2 linked regions of the Homo sapiens genome follow. The protein of the gene in region 1 purifies or fractionates together with the protein of each later gene. This does not show direct contact. Each region holds a gene or a part of one and is shown on either strand. Other genes may lie near its edges.

Region 1 (9,021 bases):
AGTGTCACTGCTCTTGACCTCTTAACACCTGTACACTTCCATGATGACAGTGCAAGGTATGGATTCCAAAACTTTTAAATTAATGAATTTTTTAATTTTAGGAATGATGTCTTTGTGTATAACCAAGATATCTAAATTTCAGGGGCTATTAATTGGGCCAGGCGCAGTGGCTCACGCCTGTAATTCCAGCATGTTGGGAGGCCGAGGTGGTCGAATCACAAGTTCCGGAGATCAAAAGCATCCTGGCTAACACAGTGAGACCTCGTTTCCACTAAAAATACCAAAAATTAGCCAGGTGTGGTGGCAAGCGCTTGCAGTCCCAGCTACTCGGGAGGCTGAGGCAGGAGAATTGCTTGAACCCAGGAGACGGAGGTTGCAGTGAGCGGAGATCGTGCCACTACACTCCAGCCTGGGTGACAGAGTGAGACTCCGTCAAAAAAAAAAAAAAAAAAAAAAAAAAGCTTCCTTCTTACGAGAACATGAGGATCCTTGGACTGAAAAGGTCCAGAGAATGAAGGGAAAATCTATACAAAAACACATTATAGTGAAACTGAAGAATATAATGAACAAAAATACTCTGTAAGCCTTCGGTAATGAGGAATAGATCACCTACAAAGATTCAAGAATCAAATTGAAAGTGAATCTCTATATCAAAACTGCCTGAAGCAGGACAATGGAGTTATTTTTATATAATGTTGGTCCAAAGTTCCATATCAATTGCAAAACCAAAAAAAATTTTCAATGGAAAGTTTTGACTTATTTTGTGAGTGTGCTAGAAACAATAAGTTCGTCTTCAAACTTTCCTGTTCTTTCCTGTTCTGTAAACAACCCTTCCTTCCTTTGCCGCCCCAGACATGCCTTCCCGCCTAATTGGTACAGGACAGTGTCTTCCTTCCCGCCTAATTACCCCTATAGAATTTAAAGCAGTAGCCAATCCGGTCAGCTTAGAATGTGCATTGTGACTGACGCAGGCAGCACCCTTCTGTAGAAGCAAATATGCTTTGCTGAGAAATTTCCTGTTTAAGTGCTGGTTTTTCTTTGTGGCACTGAGCACTTGTTTCCAACAAGTGTGACAGCACAATTTATTTGCAAAATAAAACCAGATTTGGGATGACAGTAGGCTATGTATAATCTTTATTTCACTGAAATGTGAACACTCACATGTTTTGTTTTGCAATATTAGTGCTTTTGATTTTGGAGTAATTATTTATATCCCAATGGAGTTTCTAGTAAGACACTATTTAGAATATATACACTAAATAGCCTTTCTGAAGCCTCCAGATTCTTAACTTCAAAATGTATCTAGCTCCACAGCACAGAAGAGGTGCTTTCATCTTGTCTTAAGGGAAAATATAATTTTACATTTTAGAGTTTTAATTTAGGCAAAATGATATTTAAATAGAAGAGTCTCAAAAACTATTTTGTGATACTCAGGGCCTCAGTCTTTTTGCAAGACAAAGACTCATACCACAAGAAAACATCTATTGAAAATAATATTTAATAGGAAAACATGAATAAAATTAAAAATTCTGCCAGCCAAAAGATAAGAAGAGTGAAAAATAAACTTTTTTAGGTGTTCCTAATGTCTTACAAAGAAAACCCTGATCAAATATAAGAGAAACAGAAATTACAACAGCATGGTAAAGGGAGGGAAGAAAAAGAACATGACAATTCACTAAAGCAATTGTCTTAGATAGTGAGATGATATAGAAGTGTCATAAATTGAAGTAAAGACAGCAGATTGTTAATTACCAGCATATACCTAAAAGGTCTGACCTGTTAAGTGACAACTTTCATCAAATTTGATTTAAGAAATCTACATATATATTGTTAACAAAAGGTGAAAAAAATTGTTAAAAATTATCTTGCAAGGAATAACTAAAGAAAGCCAGTTTATCTATGTTTGTGTAATTTTAAATATACCTTAAGCCCAAAAGTAACTTCAGATACCACATGATAAAAGTTTCAACTCCTAGAAAATTATGTTTTAGTTATGAATTTATCTAATTTATCTAATGATATTATTTATTATTTTATAGTGCTTCATGGTACTATAATTAGTATATATTTCTCTTCATATACACACATGTACAGACATCACTACACACATATATGTGTGTACCTGTTTGTATACATGATTATATATACATATATTTGTGTGTGAATGTATATTATATATACACATAACATGTATGTGATTGTGAGAGCACTACAAAGAAAAAAAATTTTTTTTTTTTTTTGAGACAGAGCCTTGCTCTGTCACCCAGGCTGGAGTGTAGTGGCACAGTCTCGGCTCACTGCAACCTCTGCCTCCTGGTTCAAGCGATTCTCCTGCCTCAGTCTCCTGAGTAGCTGGGATTACAGGCACACATGACCATACCCGGCTAATTATTGTATTTTTAATAGAGACAGGGTTTCGCCATGCTGGCCAGGCTGGTCTGGAACTCCTGACGTCAAGTGATCCGCTCGCCTTGGTCTCCCCCAAAGTACTGGGATTACAGGCATGAACCTCTGTGCCCGGCCAAAAAAGCAAACTTTATAATAGGAGATTTCAGTTTATGCTTCAATTACTAAATGAACAAGGTGAAAAAATCTGTAATGATATAATAAATTTGAACAACGTAATTAACAACATTTATCTAATAAAATTCTGAAAACAACATTTAAGAATCTCACATTCCATTTAAGCACACATGAAATATTGTACCAGGCTATAGAAAACATCTTTTAAAAATTTGAAAAGTAAACAATAGTAACCTTTTCCTAACTGCCTTCCCCTCCACTCCCCTATACCTTGCCACAAGGAAAAAAAAAATCATTAACTTTCAGGAGGGCAGAGAGTAATTCCAAAATGATTGAAATTCTGCCGCTAGCACCCGGTGCAGAATGGAGCTAAAGTAAAGGATCAATATACTTATGAAAATATTAAGACACCATGTGCTTGAGTAACTGTGTTTGTGAAACTGAAAAAAATTTTCTACTCTGTGTACATTTGTTCTTATGTTTTGTAAAATTGGGATGATGTCATATAATACATCTCTATGCTCAGATATGTTTTTTACTTAATATTCTTTCATGATACTTTTTTCATGTCACTATCTTGAGAACCCACCACAGCTACCGAGTTTCCAACACTTCTTCCAGCCAAAATAACAGAAGCCCTCTTCTAAGTACCAACTTATGCCAGTATACACTCGGATAATTAATTTTAAAATCTGCAACGGTCAAAATGCATTTTCTCTTGTTCAGTCCTCAGTTGTGGTGGAATAGAAGATGCCTGTTATCTTCCTAAGTAAATGAAGGATTCATATCAAGCAACTCAGTTTTCACTTTTCTGAATACTCAGCCCTACTCCCATCATCCCATGACCCTGAATAACCAATACTGATTGTCCCCTTGTGATTCTGGGGACTTCAAGGAAGGAACAAGATCATATTTACAAAATCAGGAACAGTACTCACCTCACTGGAAATTTTTTCAACAGTAGTCCAGATCTTGAGATCTTCAGAAATGCAGGAATCAATGCTTATTTGTGTGAGGGGGGAGATAAATCAGTAAAGTTCCCAGAAACGGAACCGCAGGATGTTGTAATCTCCAGAAACGCTAAGAAAATGAAGTATCTGCAAAGATAACAAGGAAAAAAGGCCTTGGTTGAGTCACTTAGTTAGCTGACTAGTGCTGGCTTGCTCCTATTCTGCTATTGCCCCAGAGAAAATGGAGTAGGAAACAATGTGGAGACTCCTCCCACCAGTGTTTTTAGCTTTCGTTTCTGTTAGTCAGAGAAAATGAACAGTTTCCTGGCAAGGGCTGGAGCATGTGGTGAGGGGAAATGGGGGATGAGAAATTACTTTAATGGGTACAGTTAACATTTTTCGGGTGATGTGCACACTGAAATCTCTGACTTCACCAATATGGCATATATCCATGTAACGAAATTACACTTGTATCTCATAAATGTATATAAACACAAATAAGTTTTTTTTCTTACAAAATTCGATAGCTGAAAGGAGTTCCAACATTAGAACTTTCTTACCCAGCAGACTTACATGTGAGTCATTAGAGACTTATATTCCCTTAAATGATGCTCAAATATAAGAGAAGCAACATGGCTTCTTCTCCCCTCCTTTCCTGTGCACAGAGTGGCAGTGGCAGGAGGAGATCTTGGTAGGAGCATCTATTGCTACCAATACTTTACTGCATCTCCTGGTTGGGGAAATGTCTGCTATGAAATCGCTATTTGTTTAAATACTACCTGAAGTATTCATCCAATTATTAATAACTGACAAGCCTGGGCTTTCCAGATCAGAAAGTCATTATGAATATGTAAATCCTTCCTTAAATTTATATGAAGGAGTTTAACACTAGCTGTCCTCTTGACCATGACTAGGTTACTTTACCTCAATGATTAGATTCACGAATGCTCAGATTTTCTGCATTATTCCTGGATAAACAAACGTGGATAGTGGACTCTCAACATGACAGCATCGAAGACTTGAAAATCCTGGAAAATGCACTGAACTTCCGGTAGTGTGAGGAGTCTGTTTAATCCTCTGCTCAGCAGTGTATTTTTCTCTGTTAAGGACAGTGGGTGCCCTTTAGCGTGCTGTAACCCCAGGATGTCAAATAAATGGCATCAACTAGCAGATGATGTGGTGTTAACCCAGCAGCAGATCTGCAAGCAGGATGTGGTCATGAGTGGAAAAGGGGCCCCATAGACTGTTAATATGTACTGTCCAAGGCCATCTACAGAGCAAAAGAAAGCTGATTGTTTTAATCCAAACTAGGGCCATGAAGTGAATAGCTGAATTCTGGATTTGAAACCATATGAATAACTTTATCAAAAAAGGAGTAAGTCAAGAAAAAGCAAAGAGGATCTGGAATGATGGCCATAAACATCTCTGGGTGTTCGTGATAATCTTTTACTGGCTTTAGGGTACTCTTTACGTGGATACATTGAGTTGGCCTTAAGGCAGTAGGTAGAGAAGGATATTAAGGCAGTCACTGGGAACCCCAATCCAGAGGTCAAAGGGTAGAGAACCCTTGGAAGTTATGACCCTTCAGAACATTTTCTGCCTTTTACTTATAATCATTTTATATGCAGTAATGTCCTCAATTGGGACTCCAGCATACAACACACAAACTGCGGTCACCTATAAGGGCAACTCAGGACAATGCTCCATAATTCATACCACAAAGATGAAATTTTCATAGATGAAGCAAAGAAATGCTTAAAAATGTGCATTTTCCCCCACTTTGTGGCAGTGGCCAACAATTGCAATTTGTGCTATCATACAGAAAAGTCATTAGTAGAATATACAAAAATTCCTGATAAAGCAAAAAATGTGCGAATATATATACATATATATAAATTATGTAGCTACATTATTACAGTGACTAAATTTATATTAATCAGGCATTATTCTGAATAAAATCTCTCAATTATGTACCTATTTTTGAACAATGAGTGTTCCATTTCTCTCTTTATGACAAAAAGCAGCTTACTATTTTACCTTTCTGGCCTCATTTTCCATACTGTTCCACATATACCAAAGTTTTAGCTGTGCAGAAACATTTATGTCACTTCACACTTTAGAGTATTTGTAGGTGACATTTCTCCTGTCAGTATTGCAAATGTCTTTACCTTGCTAAGAACAAAAAGACCTATTGCACACTGGTTTTTCATGATGCAATAGACTGTGGCATATGCATTGTTCACTTGTTTTGCAAATCAACTCTATGCAGCAAAGTTTCCCCTTTTTAGAGAAGACTACTATCTTAGTTGATTTGGGTCTTCTGGATGCTGAGGGTTCCAAGATCAAGGATGGCCAACTTAGTTTCTGGTATGAGCCCTCTTCCTGGCTTGCACATAGCCATATTTATGCAGGGTCCTCACCTAGTGTTGAGAGAGAGAGAGAGCACTCTCTGATACCTCTTCTTATAAGGGTGCTAATCACATTATGAGGACCCCACCCTCATAAACTACCCACCAAAGGCCTCGTTTTCAAATATCATCACACTGGGAGGTTATGGCTTCATCATATGAATTTAGATAACATAATCCAGTGTGTAGCAGTAATTGAAGCTATTTTCTAAAAACTAGGCGCCTAGTTAGTGTTGGAGCCAAATTCAAACCAGATCTACCTTATTCCAAAGCCCATGCACTTGAATGCTAAGCAAAATTACTTCCTTGATTTACTAATTTCTACACATATTTTTTTCTTTAGCAAAACATCCATGTCCTTTTAAGCTTGTGTGAATGTCATTTTCTTCATTATTTCTTTACAGATTCTCCACTTAACAATATTAGCACAAGGGCATTGTTTGGGTTCTCATGCTTCCTGCTGGGGCTGGACCTTTGCTGTTAAGACACAGAATCTGATTTTCCCAAAGCCTAAACCGAATTATTTTCTTTTTTGGAATACTAACATTTGTCTCTCCAACTCTCACATGAATGGAACCATGCATTTCAGATAATGGCTTTGATGTTTTGTCCATTGATTCTCAGTTGAAATTAGAAGTCAAAGTTTATCTTTTTCGTCACACTTGGTTTTGTGCTGTTTCCTTTTCCCCAATACTTCCATTTTTCTCTGTATTATCTTGTATTTCCTAGATTGTGTTCTACTTAACATATGTATTTGTGATTAAAATTAAAGTATATTATTATATGATAAGGTAAAGGCCAATTCAATTCTATAAACAGTCAGAAATGCGAAATAACACAAAATTACGGACATAAAAGATGGGAGAAGTTTATGGTGCAAATACCTATCGCCTTGGTCTTTTTGTTTGTTTGTTTGTTTTTTGGCACTTGCACCAAGGGTGAATGTAGTTAAACAGGTGGTTATCGGGAAAACGCCCTGCTGGACTAAGAACCACCCTATATTGAAATGCCTAACCTTGTTTTTACTCTAACTCGTTACTTTGAATTTTGTCCTGCTTGTCTCTTTAATCACCCAGCCTTGCTTCTCATGTAAATAAGACTCTCTCTAGCTGGGAAGGTCGGACAAACTCCAATTGACCCCTTAATTTACAAGACACTAAGGGCTCCTTACCCAACCCCCTTTAGTAAGGAGTTGGCCTGGGTAAACAGATCCTCAGCGTTTCAAAAGAGCCCAATTAACTGATAAGGTAGTAACACCAACAATGTATGAAGTTCCCAGGCTTTTTCTCAAAAAGATAACAACATAAAACCTTGAGTTCGTGTCCGGCATAGACCCTATATCTAATTACAATGAAAGATTTACAACCTTGCACCTGGTACCGTTGCTCTTCTTGTAACCATTTGTCTTTTAAGGCATGTTTTTGCTTCTGTAGAATTATTGCATTTGAGTCCCCCTCCCCTTCCTAAACCTAGGTATAAAAGTTAATCAAGCCCCTTCCTCGGGGCCGAGAGAATTTTGAGCATTAGCCGTCTCTTTGGCCACTGGCTTACTAAAGGACTCTTAATTCGTCTCAAAGTGTGGGGTATTTTCTTAACTCGCTTGGGTACAACAATATAAGCACAAGGCAAGCTCAGACCAAAGAAGAGGCAGACCACTCCTGGCTGGTTGGTAGTCAAAGATCTAGATAGCAGAAACTTACACAGGAGGCAGTCTTAAGCGGGAACAAGAGAAGTCAGATCTCCACCTCGCAGTGCACGCCTGAGTAGTCTTTCAGACAGTGAGAAGAAACAAGGAAGGAAAAGCTGATGGGGGCGCTGAGGGGTGGGGATAGCTATACCGATAGTGCCTTAGGCCATCTGGTTGCTCTCTTAATCTATTTACTTCCTGCTTAAATGGATTGTTTGAGCTTCCTTCAATCTGTTCCACATTGCTAAGGAGTGGGAGGATGTTCCTGGAAGCAGCAGTCATCTTGGTGCCAGTATGCATTTTCCAGTGGGACTGCAGCCTCCTACAATTCAATTTAAGCTCAGTTCCCAGAACACGTTTTCACAACAATGCCATTCCTTCCCCTCCAACCTCAAGGCTTCTCTCAGCCAGTCCTTCCTTGAAATTTTGTAGTTTCTGTATTGCAGTTTTGTATTCTACTTTTCCTGTTGCTCAAAGCTAATGCCATAAACTCCAGACAACTCTGTTGGCAGAAAGAGCTTCTGTAGTTCTAGGGATGACCTCTTTACTTTGGAGTGGAATAAAAGAGACTCAGTGTTGAGGCAGGAGAGGAGAGTGAATGCATATGGAAACCTGGGGAGTGATGTGAACCAGTCATGATATACTGTACAAGGCCAGAGTTGGCATCATTCATCTGTTTATTGCATGTCTCATGGAGAAAATATGAGTGAAAGAAGTTTCTGGTTCATGAAAACTCCTGTTCTCTGACCCTCCCTGTAATGGACATGCATACTTTCCCACTGTCTTAGTCCATTTAGTGCTGCTGTAATGGAATACTATAGACTGGGTAATTTATACAGAACAGAAATGTATTTCTCACAGTACTTGAGGTGGAAGTCCAAGGTCAAGCATCAGTATCTGGTGAGGCCTTCTTGCTGTGTCCTCACATGACAAACGGGGCGAATTCACCCCCTACATGCCCGTTAGAGTGGCATTAATCAGTCTATTTACGTGAGTGAAATTCTCATGATCTAAATACCTCCCATTTGGCCCAAGCTCCCAACACTGTTGCATTGGGTACTAAGTTTCAACATTATTTTTGAAGGGGGTAAAAACATTGATAGTTTCTACTTCTCCGGCTTTATCTCTGCTATCTTCATTCTTTATTTGCTTATTTTATCTAAAACTGTTCTCCAGAAAGCATTCTTTGAGGATCTTTACTAGATTGATAATTTCTTTACTCTGTTTAATTTCAGGACTTCACTTTGGCTGTCAAAATTTCCCTTGATATAATTTATCTCTAAAATTGAAGATGAGATTCTCTACTGTTGTCAGTAATGAACTCTCCACCCTAAACATCTGGTTTTGGGAATTTTTTTTCTTTTGAGACGGAGTCTTGCTCTGTTGTGATGGCACGATCTCGGCTCATTGCAACCTCTGCCTCCCAGGTTCAAGTGATTCTCCTGCTTCAGCC
Region 2 (8,227 bases), on another chromosome or scaffold:
CTGTCTCCCACCAGTCCTACTGCAGCACAGAACCACTTTAACCTGCCATACTGGAGCACTCCACTTCCATCAAGAATGTAATGACTTGTCAAGGCACAATAGTTCATTCATTCAGTAAGTTATTGAGTGCCTGCCACATGCAAGGCACTGTGCTAGAACCTGGGGAAAATGGTGAGAACAAGACACACATGTGGCTCCTGTTTGATGAAGCTCGCATTCTAGCCAATCTATCATGAAATCTAACATGAAAACATCTCTTTATATAATCTGCATCTGGGCACAGAATGTTATAAAATTGTATAACAGACAGTCTGACCCAATGACAATGTACTTACTGGAACAAGAAAAGCCAGAGTCTTGCCAGATCCAGTTTTGGCCGCTCCAAGTACATCTTTACCTTGCAAAGCCAATCCAATGGTCTGCTTCTGTATCTCAGTCACCAAACGGTACTGAGCTTCTTGCAAACCTGGCAACATGGAGGGAAGAATTATACTTTAGAAGATCCCTGTAGGATGGTATTATAGGCTAAGTGAGTTGTGTCCCCCAAAATTCCTATGTTGAAGCCCTAATGCCTCGTACCTCAGAACATAACTATACTTGGAGACAGGGCCTTTAAAGAGGTTGATTAAGTTAGAGCCCCATAGGGGTGGACTCTGATCCAACACAAACGGTGTCTTTATGAGAAGAAACTTGAACAAAGAGACACCAAGGGTCCACATGCACAGAGGGAAAACCATGTGAAGAGAGACAAGTTATTCTGTGATCCACCTACTCCACTCCTGGGTATAATCCAAAGGGTTTATTAATAAAACCACTACTTTGAAAAGTATTTGTGCTCACATGTTCATTGCAGCATTATTCACAGAAGCCAAGATATGAAATCAACCTAAGTGTCCATGAATGAGTAAAGAAAATATATGTTATATACATACACATACACACACACACACACACACACACACACACACACACAAATGGAATATGACTCAGCCTTTAAAAAGGAAATCCTGTTATTTACAACAACATGGATGAACCTGGAGGACCTTATGTTAACTGAAATAAACCAGGCACAGCAATAAAGATGCCACATAATCTCACTTATATGTAGAATCTAAAAAAGCCAAATTCAAAGGAGCAGAGGGTAGAATGGTAGTTACCAGAAGCTGGGGGAAGTAAGGAGAGTGGGAAGATGTTCATCAAACATACAAAATTTCAGTTAGAAGGAAGAACTTCAAGAGATCTATTGTAGGCCAGGCGTGGTGGCTCACGCCTATAATCCCAGCACTTTGGGAGGCCAAGGCAGGCAGATTCCTTAAAGTTCAGGAGCTCAAGACTAGCCTGGGCAACATGGCAAAACTCTATCTCTACCAAAAATTTTTAAAAATTAGCCAGGCACAGTGGCATGCACCTGCAGTTCCAACTACTCAGGAGGCTGAGATGGGAGGATCACTTGAGCCCAGAAGGCTGAGGATGCAGTGAGCTAAGATCACACAACTGCACTGCACCCTGGGTGACGGAGCAAGACCCTATCTTAAAAAAAAAAAAGAGAGATCTATTATATATCTCTCTTAATATATACTGCTATAGTTAATTAAAATATACTGAAAAAAGAAAAAATACTAAGTAGATTTTAAGAGTTCTAAACACAAAAGGATGAGGTAATATTAGCACATATACAATTAGTTTGATTTAGCCATTCCACAGCATATACATATTTCAAAGCATCATGTATACACTGTAAATATATACAATTTTTTTTTTTGAGACGGTGTCTCACTCTGTTGCCCAGGCTGGAGTAGAGTGGCATGAACCCGCCTCCCAGGTTCAAGTGATTCCCCTGCCTCAGCCTGTAGCTGGGATTACAGGTGCCCGCCACCACACCCAGCTAATTTTTGTATTTTTAGTAGAGACGGGGTTTCACCATGTTGGCCAGGCTGGTCTCAAACTCCTGACCCTGTGATCCACCCACCTCGGCCTCCCAAAGTACTGGGATTACAGGCATGAGCCACCACACCTGGCCAAATATATACAATTTTTATGTATCCAAAAATAAAAAGGCAGCAAGAGGGCAGCCATCCACAAGCCAAGGAGGCCTGGAACAAATCCTTCCCTTATTTTGCCTTAAGAGGAAACCAATGCCACCAACATCTTGATCCCAGACTTCCAACTTCCAGAACTGTGAGAAAATCAGTCTCTGTTGTTTAAGCCACTCAGTCTGATATTTTGTCATCTCAGCCCTAGCAAACAGATACAAAGGGTGTTGCATCTTGGTTTGTTCCCTTGCTTATTTTAACTAACAAAATTAGATTTCATTTTATTCAGAGGATGCTGGAAACTTGTTTTTCTTTTAATTAGTCCAGAAAGAATGAGAATAACGTACTGTTAAAACTTGAATATTGCTTATTTTCATTGGTTTTCATGATATCAAAATTTGCCAAAATAAGATTTTTCAGGCTAAACCCTCTAAATCTTCTCCCATTTATCAAAAATGCCAAGAAATCCAATAACACATCCCAAGATCACCATATACTTACCTTTCAATGTTTTTTTGGACAAGGGAAAATCTGAAAATCTTGTGATTTCATTTACATTTATCTGGAAAAAAAGAAAAAGGAATCAGGGTAACTCATTTGTTTCACGACACAGCCATTTCTTCTCTACATTGTATTGCCCAGCTCATCCTTGGTAATTCAGGGTTGAATTCAATCATCGCTTCTAATTAAAAGCCATCATTCCTTCTGTAACGAAATATGCCCTGAAGAGGCTGTCCCTGAATCGAATATACATTTGTAAGCATTTCAATTGGTAAGGAAAAAAAAGTCACCCAATACACACACACCACACATACTACTATCTGACCTCCAAAATGTTGAACACAGTAAAGCATCACCAACCACATCAATTTTAGGAAGAAAATTTACTTCCTATCATCCTTCAAGGGATCTCAATTTAAGAAACAAGGACAAAATTACCACAAACCACAGATCACAATGAAAATAGTTCTATACACACAATTTGGAAAAAAGAGTGAAATTAGTTGGAGAAATATTTCTTGTTAGCACAATCCTTTCAAAGTTTTAACCATAAATCAGTGGCCTATGAAATCCAACCTGATAACTATTCATTTTGGGGTTACTGAAGGAGGAGTATTATTTCAACACAGGGGAAATGTCTGTCATGCTTTGAAGCCACAATAAGTAACATTTTGCTAACTTTACATTATTCAAATATTCATTACTGATGTTCTTTATTAGCACAAACCCAATTTTCTGAATTTCATTTCAGCTGCTCAGGAGAATTATTTTATTACAGATGCTGAAGGCAGGAACTACTGCTCAGTTCTGGAAATATGCTGCCAAATTATACATGATTCGCAAAAGGAAAAAGCTGCATTTGTATGGTTCATTTATTTAAATTACACTCTAGGCAGTAAAAGGATGACAGTTGTACTTCATTTTACAATCTACACATCTTTCCTATGATTCTTAACATTGCCCAGGCAGTGTTTACTCTGTGCCCTCCAATGCTGAAAATACAAATATTAAAACATTGTCTTAATCCCTACAAATCATTTCAGATATCACTGGAAAGGAGGCAGAATCAGTGTACCAGCATTAGAAGAACGGTTTATTCAAATAACATACTGTCCCAGCAAGGAACCTCAATTAGAAGATAATCTTCCAAACAAGGCATTAAAATTAGGTGTAGCTCACTCTAGCACTCGTGGTATTATCAGCTAAAAAGCTGTTTTCAAAGGGAATGGAATGCCTACAGAAGGAGGCAGGCTGCCAACACACTCTTCAATCCCCAGCAAGAGACACAGTACAGGCAAAGCGAGCTCCTCAAACAAAACATTGCACAGCACATCTATCTTCCTAAAGTCAGTTAACCTCCTGGAGGGAAAGTTTAGAAGAATGAAACTGCTCCAACACTCTTCAATCAAGCATTACAACAGAAAACTATATACCATATTCCTTTTTTTTTTTTTTTTTTTTTTTTCCGAGATGGAGTCTCGCTGTGTCGCCCAGGCTGGAGTGCAGTGGCGCGAACTTGGCTCACTGCAAGCTCCACCTCCCGGGTTCACGCCATTCTCCTGCCTCAGCCTCCCAAGTAGCTGGGGCTACAGGCGCCCACCACCACGCCCAGCTAATTTTTTCTGTATTTTTAGTAGAGACGGGGTTTCATCGTGTTAGCCAGGATGGTCTTGATCTCCTGACCTCGTGATCCACCCGCCTCGGCTTCCCAAAGTGCTGGGATTACAGGCGCCATATTCTTTAAAAGAAGACGAAGAAAAGGAACTTTTGATTCTGTTGATGTTCTAAAATAGGGCCCAGCAAACTACAGCCTACGGGCCAAATCCAATTTGCTGCCTATTTTAGTAAGTAAAGTTTTATTCGAGCACAACTACAATAATTCATTTATTTATTGTCTATGTAGTTGTTGCGGAGACTGTATGGACCATAAAGCCTAACACAGACTATCCAGCCCTTTACAGAAAAAGAGTTTGCTGACCCTGCTCTAGATATTCTGTTATATTCCAAGGATTACATAGCAGCCACAGCAGGAGATGGCTACGGTTCCTACAAAGAAAATAACCCAGCCAGGCACGATGGCTCACGCCTGTAATCCCAACACTTTGGGAGGCCAAGGCAGGCGGATCACCTGGGGTCAGGAGTTCAAGACCAGCCTGGCCAACATGGCGAAACCCTGTCTCTACTAAAATTATAAAAATTAGCCAGATGCAGTGGCGTGCGCCTGTAATCCCAGCTACTTGGGAGGCTGAGGCAGGAGAATCGTTTGAACCCAGGAGGCAGAGGTTGTGGTGAGCAGAGATAGAGCCACTGCACTCCAGCCTGGGCAACAGAGCGAGACTCTACCTCAAAAAAATAACTCTTTCTCCTTCCCTTTATCCCTTTCTTAGGGGGGAAAAATCACTTACATCTCCATAATACTCATACTCAGTCTACAAATCTGTCTCACTATTCTTCTGAATTCAGGGAAGAGATATTTCAGGGATGGTCCTTATTAAAGGCTTCCCACGGCTGTTGGAAAAGTTGAAAAGCGGAGGAGAAAAGGGTGACATTTGACCATCCTCTTATACTTCTCACAACTCTCTGGTAATGCCTATTTCTCGCTAAAGTGAATAATGCCTGATGAAAAAAGCATTGAAACGCCCTAGAATGCTCCACCTGTTGCCGTCAAGAGAAGAACAGCAAACCGCCTCAACTACACCAGACCAAATTTTGATTTAAAAAAAAAAAATCAGGATTTGAATGCAGTTTCTATGCAGTACAGCTGATTACAGTCTAAATGAATCCCAGATGCAAAGAGTCATTCAGCAATAGTAAAAACAGCTGCTGAACTAACACAGCTAGCTCAACATTTCTCAGTGAGCCTCAATCCCCAGTTTTCCAGCAGCCCCTCCAACACACACCACCCCTTAGAAATACACCACCCTCCTGCTGTGAGAAGCATAGTTGACTGACAATGCCAGCTGTGCCTCCTCTAGACCCACCATGGAAAAGCCATGCTTCCCCCGGGCTGCTCCTAGTCAATGGCGGGGCTCAGCAGTGCTACTGCAGGCCCGGGGATTCCTCTGATGGACAATTTTGGATCAGTGACTCCCCATCAGCCTGGCTGAATCTTTCTTGGAACTGTGCTGCAGTCTGAGACTCTTCCTACCTTCCTACCTGCTGCTCCTTCCATCCTTCTCTCCTTTCCCTCCCTACTCCTGTTCCCTCTCCTTCAGCCTTCACGGACATTCCCCCTCCTGTGCCTGTAACCCCTAAAGCTCCAGTTCACCCAATCCCATTTTGTCATCTGCCTCTCAAAGGACCCAAGACCTAGACTCTACCAATAGTCTCCAGTCTCCTACCTGATCTCTTACCCTCCAACCTTTACAGCTCAGATATATTCTCTCTATACAGAGTCCCGCCACATACTTCCCATGGCTTCCAGATAAAGTCTTTGAGCATGGCCTCTGTATAAATTTCCTACTGTTACTGTAATAAATTACCACAAATAGTGGCTTAAACCAACACAAATATATTACCTTAGAGCTCTGGAGGTCAAAAGTCCACAATAGGTTTCGCTTGGCTAAAATCTAGGTGGCAGCAGGGCTGCGTTATTTTCTGATGACTCTACGGCAGAGTCCATTTCCCCGCCTTTTCCAGCTTCTAGAGGCTGCCCACATTCCTAGGTGGTGACCCTCTTCTGTCTTTAAAGTCAGCAACAGACTCCAAGTCTTTCTCACATCACGTCATTCTGACACTGACTCTTCCGCCTCCCTCTTCCACATCTAAGGACACCTGTGATTACATTGGGCCCACCTAATCCAGGATAATCGCCCTACTTTAAGGTCAGCTGATTAGCAACCTTAATTACCCCTTACCATCTAACATATTCACAGGTTCCAGGTATTAGGATGTGGACACTTTAAGAAGCCATTATACTGCATGCTGCAGCCTCCAATGTCATCACAGTCCAACCTTCTTCTCGAACCCATCTGAAGCCAACTCAGGAATGCATCCAACACTCCAAGGAGCATTTCCTCCCTCAAAGAATGCCATGCATTTTCACCTCTCTGTATTTCCCCATGTTCCCTCCACCTAGAACATCCTTGCCAATCTTTTCTATCTGATGAACTCATCATTCAAGAACTAGCTCCACCAGGCACAGTGGCTCACACCTGTAATCCCAGCACTTTGGAATTACAGGTGGGCAGTTCGCTTGAGCACAGGAGTTCAAGACCAGCCTGGGAAATACAGTAAGACTCCATCTCTACAAAAATTACCAAAAAAATTAGCCAGGCCTGGTGGCATGCACCTGTAGTCCTAGCTACTCAGGAGGCTGAGTTGGGTGGGTCACTTGAGCCCAGGAGGTCAAGGCTACAGTGAGCCATGATGGTGCCACTGTACTCTAGCCTGGGTGATAGAGTGAGACTCCATCTTAAAAAAAAAAAAAAAGCTTAGCTCCACTCTTGGCAACTGCAAACCACTGGACAGTTTGTATGCACCACAATGAAATCTGCTAAGACTGAGATGCAGGGGATGAAATCCAGCCCACATCAGCTCCCCAAGCCAGACGTGAGGCTGCAACCACCAGGAGGAAGGGAAGCATACCCAGAAGAAGCATGTTTTTTGTAATGCATCTGACCAGAAGGAGCTCAGTATAGGATAACTCAACTTCCCCTAATTACACCATCCTCTAACTCCACAGCACTGAGGTACATGTTACAAACTTACTATTATAACATTTTATGCATACTAATATAACGTGTCAAACTGTATCAACCCCTACATGCCCAGGTTCCCTAGGGACTTGGGCACGTATTTTTTTTCCATATATACTCACACCCGCCTAGACAAGTGCCTGTCAAATTGTTTTAAAAGGTTTCGGAATCAAATTGTTCAGTAGTTCACCAGTGAGGCTACTGAGCACCACCTGTGTACCATGGCTATGTAGTAAGTTTTATGTACAATGCTACCACCTGAGGAGCCACATAGTGAGGGCCTGCACCTTGTTTACCTAGAGAATGATAATCCTGCTATTCAAATAATTATATCCTAGTATTGCTAACCTTGACAACTGATTTCACACTGCATTTATTTCTCAACCAAATCTTAAGAAAATATTTCTAAAATTAAAGAAGTAAAACAGAACAATGCTTAGCGGGGGAAAAAGCTGCTCCTTCAACAATGAAACAAATGGGATTTAAATAAATGCAATGCAGTAAAGCCTACTGGTTTGGTGCACTGGTATCAGACTACCTGGCTTAGAACTCCTTTTTCACTTCTTAGCTGTTTAACCTTACACAAATTATTTAACCTTGCTGTGCCTTAAAGTTGTCTCACCTGTATAATGGGAACAATTTCACAGGGTTATTTGTGGTGAGTATACGGAAAGCCAGCATGAATAAAAGTTTGATAAATGTTCACAATTACAAGAAACAAAAAAGAATAATCCAATGCTGCCAACCAGAGCAAAGCCACCTGGGAAAGGTCTAGTCTTACAGCAAACAACATCTAAACACTGACTGAGCACCTATTCAAGGACAAGCACTGTGCTACCAGACTCTGGGGAGTGCAAAGACGAGTGTATCACTGGTTGCTGACCTTGAATGTTCATGGTCTAGTAGGAGAGTTTTTTTAAAAAAGTTAAAGAAGCCAATCATCGCAGACAGTTGATAAATGTTGTCATAAAGGTATCTACAAAATGCTACAGATGC

What was found. The genes of interacting proteins can lie anywhere in the genome.
Region 2: the proteins of IFI16 (region 1) and DDX10 purify together in Homo sapiens (affinity purification with mass spectrometry; 3 studies listed by BioGRID and IntAct, with this or other methods). This does not show direct contact.

The regions. Positions count from the first base shown.
Region 1 is NC_000001.11:159,004,602-159,013,622, reverse strand, and holds the start of IFI16 (gamma-interferon-inducible protein 16), read right to left. Parts: upstream 3,717-9,021; 5' UTR 3,462-3,716; intron 1,117-3,461; exon of another isoform or gene 143-1,116; intron 57-142; exon of another isoform or gene 1-56.
Region 2 is NC_000011.10:108,667,835-108,676,061, reverse strand, and holds part of DDX10 (probable ATP-dependent RNA helicase DDX10), read right to left. Parts: intron 2,596-8,227; coding exon 2,535-2,595; intron 467-2,534; coding exon 336-466; intron 1-335. UniProt on the Homo sapiens protein: Putative ATP-dependent RNA helicase that plays various role in innate immunity or inflammation. Plays a role in the enhancement of AIM2-induced inflammasome activation by interacting with AIM2 and stabilizing its protein level.